Homo sapiens: one gene and its partner. The gene in region 1 interacts genetically with each later gene. Each region holds a gene or a part of one and is shown in the gene's direction. Other genes may lie near its edges.

The links. Genes that interact genetically often act in the same process or in processes that back each other up.
Region 2: of RBMS1 (region 1) and POLA1, changing one enhances a phenotype caused by changing the other (phenotypic enhancement), as found in Homo sapiens cells (one study listed by BioGRID).

The regions. Positions count from the first base shown.
Region 1 is NC_000002.12:160,273,328-160,280,888, reverse strand, and holds part of RBMS1 (RNA-binding motif, single-stranded-interacting protein 1), read left to right. Parts: intron 1-2,230; coding exon 2,231-2,341; intron 2,342-3,505; coding exon 3,506-3,586; intron 3,587-5,174; coding exon 5,175-5,252; 3' UTR 5,253-5,259; exon of another isoform or gene 5,260-5,499; intron 5,500-6,124; 3' UTR 6,125-7,561.
Region 2 is NC_000023.11:24,688,839-24,697,256, forward strand, and holds the start of POLA1 (DNA polymerase alpha catalytic subunit), read left to right. Parts: upstream 1-5,079; 5' UTR 5,080-5,123; coding exon 5,124-5,166; intron 5,167-8,418. UniProt on the Homo sapiens protein: Catalytic subunit of the DNA polymerase alpha complex (also known as the alpha DNA polymerase-primase complex) which plays an essential role in the initiation of DNA synthesis.

The DNA.
Region 1 (7,561 bases):
AGCACATTATTTGGTAAATAACAAATGTGATTTCTTAATGACGTGAGCATTCATATATATTACATTTTTTTAAATTGAATGAGTTATACTTATTATATAGTGTATTTCATGTGTTTTTCAAAGACACATAAGATCTAGTTTGTGGAAGAAGGGTTTGAAAATTTAAAAATACATATGGAGAACAAAGTTACAATAAGGCTAAGGATGTCCAACACAATGACCCTGCATGCTCACATGAGAAAATCACAAATTTGGCTCTAAGCTTTCTAGTAACTGATGCAAAATGGGAATCCTGGTAAGCAATACAGTTCACAATATGTGTAAAATAAAAACAGATTTGGTTGCTTAGAAAAAGAACTGTATTCTTGGCCTTATGTTCAGACAGCAATTTGTCTTCGGATACCTTTTAAAGTGGATACTGCGATGTAAGACCATGTATATGAAATAGCAATCCAGGGATAACAGGTTCTGAATGAGAAATTGCTGAGATGACCTTTAAGAAGCAGATAAAACATGTTTAGGTGATGAAATAGGAGAGGCGCGCTCTGATATATGTATACGTTTTGTGTGATATATACACATACATATAGATCTATACATGTGCACATACATAGACACATCTTCAAACCCACACTTACCTGTACATGTGTACATAATATACATGCACTGATCCACACATGCCCATAGCAATCTGTGTCCCTGATACTCCATGCTACCCTATTTTGGAATGCTTGGAAATCAGCTTGCTTTGAATTTGAGGACTTCCTATTACAGATGGTGCCAATGAATGAGAAAAAGGAGCAGGAAACTGCTCCACCATCTTCTAGGCTTCTGAGTCATTTCCGTGTTACCACTTGCTTTTTGATGATGCATGTTAAAAAAAAAATTTCTAACAGAATGTATTAATGACAAACATTATCTCTGACACACATCTATATCTTTTTTTCTTTTTGGCAACATTTGAGAAAAAGACTGCACGTATCTGAGCTTAACATCTTTGAGGAGACATTAGGAATGTAAGCAGAAGGTTGCTATCTGAGGATTCATTACCTTTCCCCACCCAGCTTTAAACTGCCTGATTTACATCAGAATTAAAGTTCCTGTACACCTAACTCTGTCCTAGATTGTCTATCTAATTATCAATAAATAACAGTTGTATTTAAGGGATGCCAGGTACAGTGATAACAAAACATACATTAGTAGTTACAGAGCGTGTCAGAATACTTGCATTCTCAGATAATGAGGTGATTGCAAAAGTCCAAAAATAAAGAGTTCATTGAATTTTGGTTTATACAATCAATGTAACCATTTAAAAAAATGATGATAATGATAGTTTTTCAACAAGCTAGGTAAATGGTTAGAATAGAATGCAAAGTTAAGAGCAAAATCCCAGGATATGAAGTTGTTGATGTGCTCTGATTGAACCTGTACAGAAACACACAGAGGCTATGATCTGGCAGTAGTACCCTGACATTGCTAACAGTGGTTGTATTAGACTGGCTGAGTTAGAAGCAATTGTTTTTTTTTTCCCTCCTATTTTCCTAAATATATTTAATTTGATTTTAATGACTAACATTTTTTCAAATTAAATAAAAGAATCTGGACTCAGATTATTAATCATATCTGAATTGCCTTCCCTCCCAGGCACCAAAATGTAACTTAAAGTTCTGAGAAACACTGAGTGAATGAAGAAATGTGCTCTTGATCCTAACAACCTGATCTTGAACCAGACGATTATCTGGATAGAACATTGTTAAACAAAATACTATATTGATCTTATTAAATATAATACATTGTTTGGTGACTGGAGAAAACATCAACTGCCTTTTTTTTCCAGATTTTTTTTTAAGAAAGCGTTTTGTAACCCTAGGCAGGCAGTGATAATCAGTTTGTTTTTCCTATGATAGCTCCTCCTGCTGGACTAGCTTGCTTCCAGTTACTGGAAGTGAAGGGAAAGGGAAGGAGAAGAGGGACACTGGCTTTAATACAGGGATTGTTGTGAAGTGAATGCCAAGATATCATTTCCCCTAACGCTCTTAAAAAACTCTCAGGAAGAGCAATTTAGAAGATTTTTAGGAAACTGTTTATGATGCCATTTGCAAGATTGAGGAAGGTTGTTTTTGCTTCACATTCTTAAACAAACTAAGGTATTTCCTTTGTAAAAAGTAATTACAGGATCTTAACTCTTGCCTCAGTTTGTCTAATTTTGCTCCTGTCTCCAACTCCCCAGGGTGCCGTGTTAACTCCCTCAATGGAGCACACCATGTCACTACAGCCCGCATCAATGATCAGCCCTCTGGCCCAGCAGATGAGTCATCTGTCACTAGGCAGCACCGGAACAGTAGGTGGCAAATAATTATCATGTGTCTCTGTAAACAGAGGAGGGTAAATTAATGCAGCCTGTATCTTCCCTATCAAATGACAGCCTCTATGATAACAGATTATGTCTAATCCCCTCTCTTCCCCCCACATGACCTTCCATAAAGTAAATACTCAGCTATTTCTTAATTAATTGATGAACTGAAAGTCTATTCTCTGGGTATCTCTCCTTTACGAGAATATAGCACCCACACGTGACCACATCTAGCCTTTTATGACTAGTGTCATCTATATAACTAGTACCACTGTCCCTGTGGCAGTGTCATGAAGCGAAAGACGAAGGTAATACAAGATGGTAAAAGCAGGGAATTATTTCTCGCTTATTTCTTCTTTTATGGAGTTTGGGAGTATTGAATCATGGTCTTAATATTGAAATATTTCACCAAAGTCCAGGGGACTCCTTTGGGTAATGAGGTTGAGCTGGCACCAGATCAGCTTCCAGATTTGATGCTTAGCATTTTGCTGGTAAGATGGCTAAAGGATTTTAATTTAGCCTCTATTCTATAGTGGCTTAAAAGAACAAAGGGTGGTGCGTTTTCCCCTTATACACTCAAAACCTACAGCTGTTTCTTGTGAAGGCTAAGCCAGGGCCACACATATCCAATGAGACTGACTAGAAATTTCTCCTGCCTTTGGGAAAGGATGACTGTCAGTGTCAGAAAAGCCAGGCTCTGCTGCCTAATCTGCAGTGACCTGTTAGAGGTCTAATAAGTCTTACCCCTGTGGGCTCTACCTGTAGAAACAATACTAGGTACTAGTTTAGGGGGCTGCTAGAAAATAATGAGGTCCTTTGAGGAGAGATCTTCTAAAATCACACATTAGTGATACTGAATTATTGAGAGTGACAAACTTTTTTATCTTCACCCATAATAAACTTTTTTTATCTTCACTTTGTTAGCAAATCCAAAGAAATGTGGAATTTTTAGTTTAGCAGATTCAAAAAGTAGAAAACAGTTTACCTTCCATATGACATATTTATATGCACTATTTAAGCTTTGAGGTGTAGCCCATTTAAATTTCTTCTTTGAGATTTCCAAATACATTATATCCATCTCACAATCCCCCCACGTACTCCAAATTTTGCATGGTTTACCATTGCCCATTCTGACCTCATTCTTCTTTCTAGTACATGCCTGCAACGTCAGCTATGCAAGGAGCCTACTTGCCACAGTATGCACATATGCAGACGACAGCGGTTCCTGTTGAGGTTGGTAGAGACCATCCAGTGACCATTCTGGCTATAAGTAGTTTCAGAAATGGGTAAATTAAATAGAACTCAGAAAAATCTACCAGACGTCAAATATTTGCATAAAGAATTGCGTTTAGCCAGATGTGGTGGGTCATGCCTGTAAGTCCAACACTTTGGAAGGCTGAGGAGGGAGGATTGCTTATGGTCAGGAGTTAGAGACCAGCCTGGGCAACATAGTGAGATCCCATCTCTACAAAAAATAAAATTGTTTGAAAATTGGCCAGACATGGTGACATGGACCTGTAGTCCCAGCTACTCAGGAGTATGAGGCAGGAAGAACCCTTGAGCCCTGGAGTTTGCAACTACAGTGAGCTATGATCATGACAAATTAGGGTAACAACATCCAGGCCACACCTCTTAAGACTCCCAGAAATATTTTCTAAGCCTATAGTGCCTTTCATACCCCTCGGACGTTCTGTCTTGTCTCTCATAAAATGATACTACAGACATAATAAGATAAATCTGGAGTTTGCAGTCCCAGTACTAAAGATCGTATCAATGATAATTAATAATGACGAAAAGAAATCAGTTGTAGTTAAGATACTTAGTGGAAAAGAGAAAGCTGTTTTGAAACTGCTACAGGGATGAAGAAGAAGCTATAGCTGTTTTTACAGAGGCTGTTAGTATGGCTAGATAACTGTTCTTGTTATGGAAGATACTGATATGAAAGAAAGAAGTCTAGCATTTGAATTATGGTTAGAGAGAAAACGTGGCATTTTCCTGCAAAGTATCCTTAAAATTTCAAGGAAATGTATCAATCCAGTTGATCTTGCCCACTAGGCAGATCCCAAAGGTTCCAATTCCAGGAAAGGATCATAGGACTCTGGCCTGTTGGTGGAGGTGGTGGTGGTGGTGGTGATAGTAGTAGCAGTAGTAGTAGTAGTAGGTGTTGGTGGTGGTGGTGGTGGTGGTGGTGGTGGTAGTAGTATTTTACTTCTGTTTGTGCAATTACTGACAACCACAGTTACCAGAGCCTACAATTCCTTACCTGCAATCTGAAACCCAAAAAGAAATCTGAAAATAAAAATTATCTTTGTAACTACTTTAGCATAAAACCTGACCTATGGCAAAACTCAACCTGAATTGAGATGAGACAAAATCTTGATCCCACTTAACTGTGCTGCTTCATGGCTTCCAGTGTAGAACTATTAATATGTTTGCTTATGAGGTGCAGCCCTAGACCCTACTGGAGGCATTAAATGATATACAGCATATGCATACCACATTTCAGATTATAAAATCTGAAAATACTGAATTCCAAATCACATCTGTCCCCAGGGGATAAGAGGGTAAGAGATTTGTTTGATATGCTGTAGCTTGATAAGAATAGGAAAGTCATAAACATTTGGATGGGAGGTGCTTTGGGTCTGTTAGACATGCCAGCTGCTTAGGGAAATGATTAACCTTGAAAGCTCTACATGACGTGAAGAAATTTACTTTAAAGAGTAACTGTTTTTAAGGCACTGTTGGATTCAGTCAGGCCTAAGTAGCAGAGCTGAGGTTTTTTCACTAACATGTCTCATCCATTCTGCTTTGTTTGTTGTAGGAGGCAAGTGGTCAACAGCAGGTGGCTGTCGAGACGTCTAATGACCATTCTCCATATACCTTTCAACCTAATAAGTAACTGTGAGGTATGAGGGAAAGGTCTTCATAACTGGGGGGCTCAAATCAAGCACAATCTATAGGGCTTTTTTTAAAATCAGAATGGTGATTGGGATAACTCGGATTTTATCATACTGCTTTAATCGTGGCCAAGGCATCTAGTCTTGTTGAAATATTAAAATCAGTGATTTTATGAATTTAAGATTAATCATTTTGTCTAAAGAGAATGCTTTATACTGAAGCCAAATGTATACTCTCCCCACTAAAAAGAAAAAAATAAAAATCTGTAACATCAGAGAACACCAAGAACCAAAATTGTTCTATAATACAAGTATCCTATATCATATTACTTTAATACTCAGAAACTGGAGGACCTATAGCATAAGATGTTGCTCAATCTAGCATTACAAGTTTAGCAACATCTTGATTATGAATTTAGATAAATGTCAATATCCTTAGATTGAAAGATTATATTCCCAACTCTCACTTGAACCACAAATTTCAAAACTTTTCACTTTACCATGCAGACTGTAATAAAATAGCTGTGTAGAACTTAGAATACCCTGGTTTCTGCATTGCCCTGGTGATATAGAATACCTTGGTTTCTGGATTGCCCTGGTGATAACATGTATTTTTGATTTCATAAAGTCACTCTTTAGAGACCCAAATGAATTTGGCTCTAAATTAGAAAAGAAAGTATTTTGCAAGTCCTGGATGTGACAGGCATTGAAAGTAACCATCAGTTCCAGAGTCTGCATTTATCAGTCTACCATCAGTGATGAGCATAACCTTTTTCAAACACATATCTCTTTAAAACAAGAAACAGATTACAAAGCTCTGTAGTGTTTCACACCAAATCTACAAAAGCATTTGTCTTTTATTTTTCTCTTCCAGATGTACAGAAAGGTGTTCTTACATGAAGAAGGGTGTGAAGGCTGAACAATCATGGATTTTTCTGATCAATTGTGCTTTAGGAAATTATTGACAGTTTTGCACAGGTTCTTGAAAACGTTATTTATAATGAAATCAACTAAAACTATTTTTGCTATAAGTTCTATAAGGTGCATAAAACCCTTAAATTCATCTAGTAGCTGTTCCCCCGAACAGGTTTATTTTAGTAAAAAAAAAAAAACAAAAAACAAAAACAAAAGATTTTTATCAAATGTTATGATGCAAAAAAAGAAAAAGAAAAAAAAAAAGAAAAGAAAACTTCAATTTTCTGGGTATGCACAAAGACCATGAAGACTTATCCAAGTGCATGACCGGATTTTTGTGGTTTTGTTCATTTTGTGTTTAATTTGTGTTTTTTTTTTCCAGCTGTATGAAATGGGCTTTCTGAAGTTTAAATAGTCCGACTTCACCCATGGTGTTCTGTGCTTGCAGTGCGAGTGTTGCTGTAATTCAGTGTTGCCGTCAGTGTCTCTTTTCTTAGCTTTCTGTCTTTCTTTCAACGTAGTGTGAAGTGTCTTATCCTTTTCTATGAATTCCAATTTGCCTTAACTCTTTTGATGCTGTAGCTGTTTCAGTAAAAGTTAGTTCAAACTAATGATGTAGAATGCTTTGACCAAATGAGCTGGTCTATTATGCCTTGTAAAACAGCAGCATAGGGCTTTTAAAAGGTAGTCAATAAAAGTTGCTGAAATTTTGGCTTTTTTAAATATGTAGTAGGTGTTTTTAATGATTTTTCACATAATGTGTAAGGTAGTGAAATGCAAGAAGGGAAAAATGTTTTGTGTGAAACACATTTTCTGACTGGGGAACTTTTATTAGGGTAAATTGTTTGTAAGGCTGTACGCCAACAGTTTCCTCTGATAGTTTGACTGATTTAGGATATCTGCTGTATGATGCAATGTAAAGTCTTTTTTGCCTTTTTTCAGGAAAAAAAAAAAGCTAACTTGATGTACTAGATTTAGTGTAGGTAGTGTTGGGGTTGGGGATGGGGGTGGGGGAGGGGAGTCACTGAATGTTTTGTCCTTCCTTTATACTAATGATAGTGCTTTAGAATGAGAATTATGCCTGAAATCTGGCAAACCGAAAAATGTTGCTATTGCAACAAAGTGGCAAAAGCTAAAAGTAAGGATTTATCTTCAAACATAAGCTGAGATAACGAATAGAAGCAAAACGATTGGCTACTAGCTCTCTCTCTCTCTCTCTATTAGGTAAATTTGAAAAATAAAAATGACTTGGCACTTTTAAAGGTAACTTCACCAAAGACCGAAGAGCCAGTAACCAGTAGCTCCAACTTGTCTCAGCATCACATCTTCTGTGCTCTTTATTTTTGCCGGACCAGTTTGCGGTTAGGAGAATGTGCCTTTTTTGTACCTTTGCATT
Region 2 (8,418 bases), on another chromosome or scaffold:
GGTAAGTAGCATGTCACGGGGGCTTGGTGTACAGATTATTTCATCATCCAGGTAATAAGCATAGTACTTCATAGGTAGTTTTTGATCCTCACCCTCTACCACACCCCACCCTCAGTTGGTGCCAGTAACTGTTGTTCCCTTCTTTGTGTCCATTTGTACTCAATGTTTACCTCCCACTTATAAGTGAGAACATGTGGTATTTGGTTTTCTGTTCCTATGTTAGTTCGCTTAGGATAATGGCTTCCAACTCCATCCATGTTGCTGCAGACGTGATCTCATTCTTTTTTTTTTTTTTTTTTTTGAGACAGAGTCGTGCTCTGTCGCCCAGGCTGGAGTGCAGTGGTGCGATCTCGGCTCACTGCAACCTCTGCCTCCTGGGTTGAAGTGACTCTCCTGGTTCAGCCTCCTGAGTAGCTAGGATTATAGGTGCCCGCCACCATGCCTGGCTAATTTTTGTATTTTTAGTAGAGATGGGGTTTTGCCATGTTGGCCAGGCTGATCTCGAACTCCTGACCTCAGGTGATCTGCCCACCCAGAGTGGCCTCCCAAAGTGTTTGGAATACAGGCGTGAGCCACTGCACCTGGTTTCTTTTTTATGGCTGTAAATTAGTTCCACCATTGTGGAAGACAGTGTGGTGATTCACATAAAAGTAGAAGTCTAAGAATCAAACCCTAAGTCTGACTCTACCTGAGTCTTTAATCCTTCCAATATAATATTAAAGAGGACAAATTATAAACAAAAAGAGTCTATAATTCTATCATCCTGGCAAAATATACTCCATTTTGCATATTGCTTTCAGGTAAATAACTGTTTGATATATCATTGCAAATAAGTGTGGGTATGTATCACTTTGCCCTCTGTGGTTTTCACTTTCTGAAATATCATAAACATTTTTCATATTTTGAGTCTTTCTAATCATTTTATCTTTTTGATGTCACAACATTAAACCTTTGTTATGATGTGGACTTTTAGGTCCCAACTTTTTGCTAATGGAAAACAGCAGCCATTAACGTCTTTGCATTTTTTGTTTCTATTATTTCTTATTAAACTTTTACCTGTGGAAATAAAGGGTTGAAAGATACAAGTATGTTTACGGTACTTGTCACATATTGCAATATTATTTTCCAAAAGATTGTGCCAACTTACACTGCCACCTGTAATAAATGAGTTGTGCCTCAACACTGTAAGCTTACCAGCAATGGATAACATTTATATATAGAGAAATGTACAGATAAAAAGGGGGAAAATGGTGGAACATAGTATCTCAGTCTCAGTTTGCTTTACTTTGTTTATAAGTTAAAAAAAAACCTTTAAACTTGCAAAACTGGTCCTGGACAGGAGAGAGGAAGTTTAAGACAAATTATGATTTTTTTGCATGATTAGATAACAGAGGTAGGTTTACAGTAAAGCTGCTGAAACTTAATCTCCAGGGCCTCTCATTTGCATATTGGCCACTTGCAAGGCTCTGGGAGATGTTCTAGCAATGGTTTTATGTTTTTGTAAACATTTGCAAAAGTAAGATATTTCATTTTATTTATTTGTTTATTTTAAGATAGTATTTGTCATATTTATTTGCTCCATTTATTCTAAAACAACCCTGGCTCCCTCCTTCATTCCCATCTAATCTACCCCAATCCTTTTTATTAATATTATTACTTAATTAATTGTTTATGTGAATGAGTTCTTTAGTGGTGATTTCTGAGATTTTGTTGCACCTATCACCTGAGCAGTGTACACTGTACCCAATGTGTAGTCTTTTATCCCTCACCTCCTTCTCACCTTTCCCAGAGTCCCCATTGTATCATTCTTATGATACAATGAGTCCATTGTATCATTCGTATGCCTTCGGATACTTGTAGCTTAGTTCCCACTTACGAGTAACACACAATGTTTGGCTTTCCATTCCTGAGTTACTTCACTTAGAATAATGGTCTCCAATTCCATCCAGGTTGCTGCGAATGTCTTTATTTCATTCCTTTTTACTGCTGAGTAGTATTCCATGGTGTGTGTGTGTGTGTGTGTGTGTGTGTGTGTGTGTGTGAGATATATACACACACACATATGTATATATACACATATCTCACTTTTTTTAACCTACTTGTTGATTAATGGGCATTTGGGCTGGTTCCATATATTTGCAATTATAAATTGTGCTGCTGTAAACATGCGCGTGCAAGTATCTATCATGTATAATGACTTCTTTTCCTCTGGGTAGATACCCAGGAGTGGGATTGCTGGATCAAATGGTAGATCTACAAAAGTAAGATATTTTAGCTGCAATCAGATATGACTACTTTCCACTTGGTGGTTTGCTGGTAAACCTTAAAAAAATAAAAAGCTCTGATTTGTACCACTTGCCAATTTCCAGGGTGTAAATATTCCCACCATGACTGATTTCAAGCTACCAACAGTTTAACATGGAGATTACAAAATACTGGAATATTTAACAATCAGCTCTTGAGAACCTCCAACTGTCCCTCTGATACACTTCGCTTCTTGCATAGTAGCAGTGAAATAGGCATAGGCATTTTGGGATTCCACTATGGGGAAATGGAGTTGATATTGCATTTAGTTTGGGCTTATTTCTTCTATTTATGTGGGTCGAAGGCACTTAACCCACATATATACTTAAGCCATATATACTTAAGTTATTGATAGACTTTTTTTTTTTTTTGAGACAGAGTCTCACTCTGTCACCCAGGCTGGAGTGCACTGGCACAATCTCGGCTCACTGCAACCTCTGCCTCCCGGGTTCAAGCTATTCTTCTGCCTCAGCCTCCCAAGTAGCTGGGACTACAGGCGCCTGTCACCACACCCGGCTAATTTTTGTATTTTTGGTAGAGATGGGGTTTCATCATATTGGTCAGGTTGGTCTTGAACTCCTGACCTCATGATCTGTCAGCTTCGGCCTGCCAAAGTGCTGGGATTACTGGCGTGAGCCACAGCGCCGGGCTGTTATTCATAGACTTCTTGGTGTAGGAATAGCTTCCAGGAATATTTCTACCCCAGTGTGATGACTTACCAGGAGTTTTGAACTGAAAGTGTAGGGCCAGAAGACATATCATGGTATGAAAGTGTCTGGCCTGGCATGGTGGCTCACACCTGTAATCCCAGCACTTTGGGAGGCTGAGATGAGTGGATCACCTGAGGTCAGGAGTTCAAGACCAGCCTGGACAACATGGTGAAACCCCATCTCTACTAAAAATACAAAAATTAGCCAGGTGTGGTGGCGGGCGCCTGTAATCCCAGCTACTCGGGAGGCTGAGGCAGTAGAGTCGCTTGAACCTGGGAGGTGGAGGTTGCAGTGAGCCGAGATGGTGCCACTGCATTCCAGCCTGGATGACAGAGCGAGACTCCATCTCAAAAAGAGAAAGTGTCCTACAGGTCTTTTCCCACAAAGTATGTGGGTCATTGTCTCAGTCTGTTCAGGCTGCTATAACAAAATACCACAAACTGGGTGGCTAATAAACAACAGGAATTTATTTTTCACAGTGCTGTAGGCTGGGAATTCCAAGATCAAGGTGCCGGCAGATTCAGTGTTTGGGGTAGGCCCACTTTTTGGTCCATAGATGGTGCCTTATTGCTCTGTTCTCACATGGAAGAAGGGGCAAGGCAGCTCTCTGGAGCCTCTTTTCCGAGGGCACTAATCCTATTCATGAGGGAGGGTTCCTGCTGATGACCTAATCACCTCCCAGAGGCCCTACCTCCTAACACCACCACACTGGTGATTAGGTTTCAACGCATACATTTTATGTGGAGAGAAACATTCAGACCACAGCAGTAGTGAAAGAGAAAAGAGGTTTGAAATGCCTAGAGTTATACCCGGGCATGTGGGAAGTAATCAGCTGTGAAATTGTTAAGGTAAGGATTTGGTTCTTATTAATGACTAGCCAACATGGTTCTCTCCTGGTTGGAAAAAGCTTGATAATAAAACTATAAAACTTCCATCAGTTTTTAAAAGGGAAGTGTAGGAATAAATCTGTCGTAGTACTTTAAATAGGAAGTTATGTCTAAGTGTAAATTACTACATGTTATGTATCACAACATATGGATCACATAACATGATATTAAATGATTATGAAGCTGAAAGACATTTTCTAAACAATCAGAAATTAAGAAACAAGTATTGATCAACCATGCTAGAAGACAGATTGAATTATCTTTATATCCTCTTTGGAGAAAATATTACAAAATTGTTGTCACATGAAGAAGGGATCAATAAGCATGTGGGCAATAATGTAGGAAAAAATACAAATGTGTGGCAGGCATTATTTAATAAAAATGTTATACCTTTTTGGAAAGAGATAACATGAGATGTACACATTACAGCCATTGTATCATACACAAAAATTGAATACCCTTTTTGTTTTTCATAACATTGAAATTTTGGAGTTCACGTCAGGTGTTTTGTAGATTGTCCTACATTTTGAATACATCTGATTGTTTCTTCATGGTTAGATTCAGGTTAGACATTTTTTGCAAGAAGACCATATAGGCGAAGTTTTTCCTTTTTCATACGCATTACATCAGGAGGCATATGAGATCAGATGGCCATTTATTGGTAATGCTACTTCTGGTTATTTGGTTAAGACGGAGCATATATCTTTAAGTTGTTAATCACACAGCCACTGTATCCAGACTGCTGAGAAGCAAACTATCAGGCAAAATTCAGGGCGCGCAGCAGGAGGCAGTCGCTTTCCCGGCTCTGGGGAAAACGATCCAACCACGCCCACTCTCCTGCCCGCCCGCGCCTCCTTTCCGGGAAAATGGGCTCTGAGAACCAGAGCGCCCTTTCTCCCACGCGCCCAAATCTTTTCCCATCAGCATGCGTGCGCTTGCGCAGTCTCCAGGCGGCTCCTTTCCAGCGCCCGACCGCTTCTTTCTCCTGCTCTCCTCCGGCTTCCCCTCAGCTCTAGCTTTTCCCTAAGGGGTCATCACAGGGCGCCAAACGCGCGTCCGCGGGAAGGCCGGGGGCGGAGCGCGGCGCGGCGCGGCACGTCAGTGGCCTTCCGGCCGGAAGTCCGCAGCCTCCCGAGCCGCTGATTGGCTTTCAGGCTGGCGCCTGTCTCGGCCCCCGCGCCAGTTTTGGGCTGGTTGGCGCGGAATCGGGAGATTCGGGACCATGGCACCTGTGCACGGCGACGACTGTGAGATAGGGGCGAGTGGTGAGGGACAATTCCGCGCGCGGGGCTCCGGGTTGGGACAGTGGCATGATTGCCGGTGGTGGGGGTTCTGAGGGAGGCGCACACCCGGGTTTGTTTGGGCGCAGACCTTGGTCGTCCCCGGCGGGGGCCCTTCTGGCGTCGGACCGGGCTTCCTTTAGGCGCGGTTTGCTCTTGGAGGACCAGAGCCTGGAGGGATTTTTGTTTGGGAGGCTGTCTCACCTCTGCCACTGAGAGTCTCCACAGTCGATTGCGTTTCTATTTCTTTTGGTGAGTTGCACCCACGTGCTGGGTATAACTTTATTGAGACTGGCCCCGTGGGGCCGAAAGTATTTCACTGCGATCTCCCTAAGTATCCACTTGAAGGCTTGAACAGAACAGATCTGTGTCCCTTTTTGTAGGAACTTCCAGGAAAATTTTATACATTGTAACTAAGCAGGAAAGAAAGCTCTAAGTGCTGTCATCGGGGAATAACGCGTTTTGTATTTTTAGGTAATGGGTTTCTACTTTATGCATTAACAATTTTTCTTTCAGATTCTTTGGAAAGTTCTTCAAGTGCTGCGTAGAAATCCTGTTCACAATCTAGTCATTCCTGGTGAAGTTTCAAAAAAATGGCATCAATTTAGGGCATTTCGGATCCCCTGTATATCACTCCGTTTGTCAGGGGTGTCTTTTATTTCCAAAAATAGAATACAAAAATGCAAATAGATTTGTCTGATTTTTTAAGTGTTCAACTAAAGCGTGACTTCAGTTAACTTCTAACTTAAAATCAGATGCTTCACTTTGTTAGCTCAAGCGTCACCTCTCCTGTCATTCAGATACATCACCATTAATGAGAACTCGCTTCCTAATCAGCTTCCTTTGCATTCACCTAGTTGTGAGTCACAGATTTCAATTTGTTCTAGCCGTTCGTTTTTTAAGACTATTTTGGAGAGTCGACCTGCCTGGATTACAGATAGGATGTTGGGTGTAAGTATGTGAACGAACAGTCTTTGCAGGCCTCTATCAGTGATTTGCCACTAAGCCCTTTCTTCATCCTAAAAACTACGTCATCTATGAACATCAGGAAATCACTTTGGAGGATACTGTGCAATCTTGAGACTCCTCTTAGGTCATGGTGTTCATTAAGTAGTTGCTGGGGACTTGTGACTGGAATTTTTCCTTTAGAGCAGACTGAAGGATTGTTACCTGAAAGACTGCTGTAAGCTAGTGTCTGTCTGCTTTTGGGGAGGATAGAGATACTCCAGATGGTAATTTTGAAACAAATATTTAAACCTTTGTAGCTGGATTTTTTTCATGCTTATTCTTTTTTTGCTAAGTTACCTACGTGAAGCATTGGAGACATACTCCAAAAAACAAAATGTAGGCTTTTTTTTTTCTTCAGTATTAGCAGGCAGGGCACCTTGATAATGGCAGTGAAAAGTTGAAAGGTCTGTAACTAGCTGTTACTATATATGAAAAAAGATCAGGGAATTTTTATTTATTTATTTATTTTTGAGACAAAGCTTCCCTCTTGTTGCCCAGACTGGAGTGCAGTGACGTGATCTCAGCTGGCTGCAACCTCTGCCTCCTGGGTTCAAGCAGTTCTGCCTCAGCCTCCCGAGTTGCTGGGATTACAGGTGCCCACCACCACACCGGCTAATTTTTTGTATTTTCAGTAGAGACAGGGTTTCACCATGTTGGCCAGGCTGGTCTTGAACTCCTGATGTCAGGTGATCCACCTGTCTCTTCCTCCCAAAGTGATGAGATTACAGGCATGAGCCACTGCGCCCGGCCAGGGAAAGTTTAATGATCAAAAAAGCAGGTACAGTGGTTCATTCATTGGTTCATTCAGCAAATATTTATTATATACCTACTAGGTATAAGCCTTCTGCCAGGCTCTGGCATTATGATGGTGGGTAGGCTGGACATGGTTTGTCTTCATGAAGTACAGATGGTAAACATCTAATCATATGCAGAAAACGGCTTTGCTTTGTTTTTGCCTTCTAAAGCTAGACCTTGGTACTCTTAGGTATGGTGTGTGTGGGGTATGTGGATGTGTGTTTGACTTCACACGCGGAAGCGTTACATGAGCCGCTCCTATATTGCTAAGTGCAAAGTAAGATAGGCATCTTCATGTAATCCTTAACAGATTTTGAAGCAGACATGATTATCCCCATTTCACAGATGTGGACCCTGAGGCTCTGCATCAGTCAGAGCCCCTATCTGTAAGCTGCAGGAACCAACTCTACCAGATTGGTTAGAATTTGTTAGAAGAATATTGTGTTCACAGAAACTCCAGGAGGACTAGTAAGCCAGTCTGGGAGCTGTTTAGCCAGGAACAGTGAGTGAAATTGTGCCACAAAAATGGGCCAGTGAGGAGGTCATTGCCAACCACGAGCAAGTACTTGATGCTATAGCTCATACCTTAGGACATTGCTGACATTGTTGCCGGTTTTGTAATCCTTCTGCAGCTGTTGCTACTTGTAGAATCTTTTAAAACCCATGCCCCCTTCCTTGTGACACTAGCTTCTGATTTAATGTCTGAGCAGGTGTTCCTAATCGGTAGCGCCTATTTTATATGCCCATGCTCTAGGCTGCAAGGGTGTCTGGGAAAGAGCATCAACCTTTTCAGCTTCTGTAATGGGGCATAGGCTCTGCGTCTCATCAAGACTTATAAGGGATGGGGGCCGGATTTCACAAACAGTTTCAGATGCTAGGCTGCTTTAAATAACAAGACACCTGTCTGCTGCTTAACTGGTTAACCGGTGTTCTCATGTCACCCAGTAAATGGCAGAGCTGGAATGTGCTGCTTCTCCCTAACCTGGTTCTCCTACTCACTCTACACTCCCTTGTCGAATTTACCTTGCACACTGAGTTCTCTCAGTTTCTGAATACACTATGCATTTTCATCCCTTTGTAATTTGGCTCATGCCTCTTCTTTTGCTTGTGCCACTTTTTACTTTGTTCTCTGTGAAATTTGACTCCTTTTTCTAGGCCTGTATTGGAAACCTCTCCTGTGAAGCCTTCCTTGATTTTCCAGGCAAAATTAACAGCTCTCTCCTCTGTACATTTCCTCAGTACTGAGTTCTTACCTTTTCTATGGCACCATGTTTATATTGTGATGGTAATTTCAGGTACTTTGCTTTACTTGACTGGGGGCCTCTTTTGGACAGGCAGCTCTGTCTTATTTGTGATTGTACCCTAAACCCTGTGTAGTGGAACATTGTTGCCTGTGTAGTGGGACGTTGCCTGTGTAGTGGAACATTGTTGCCT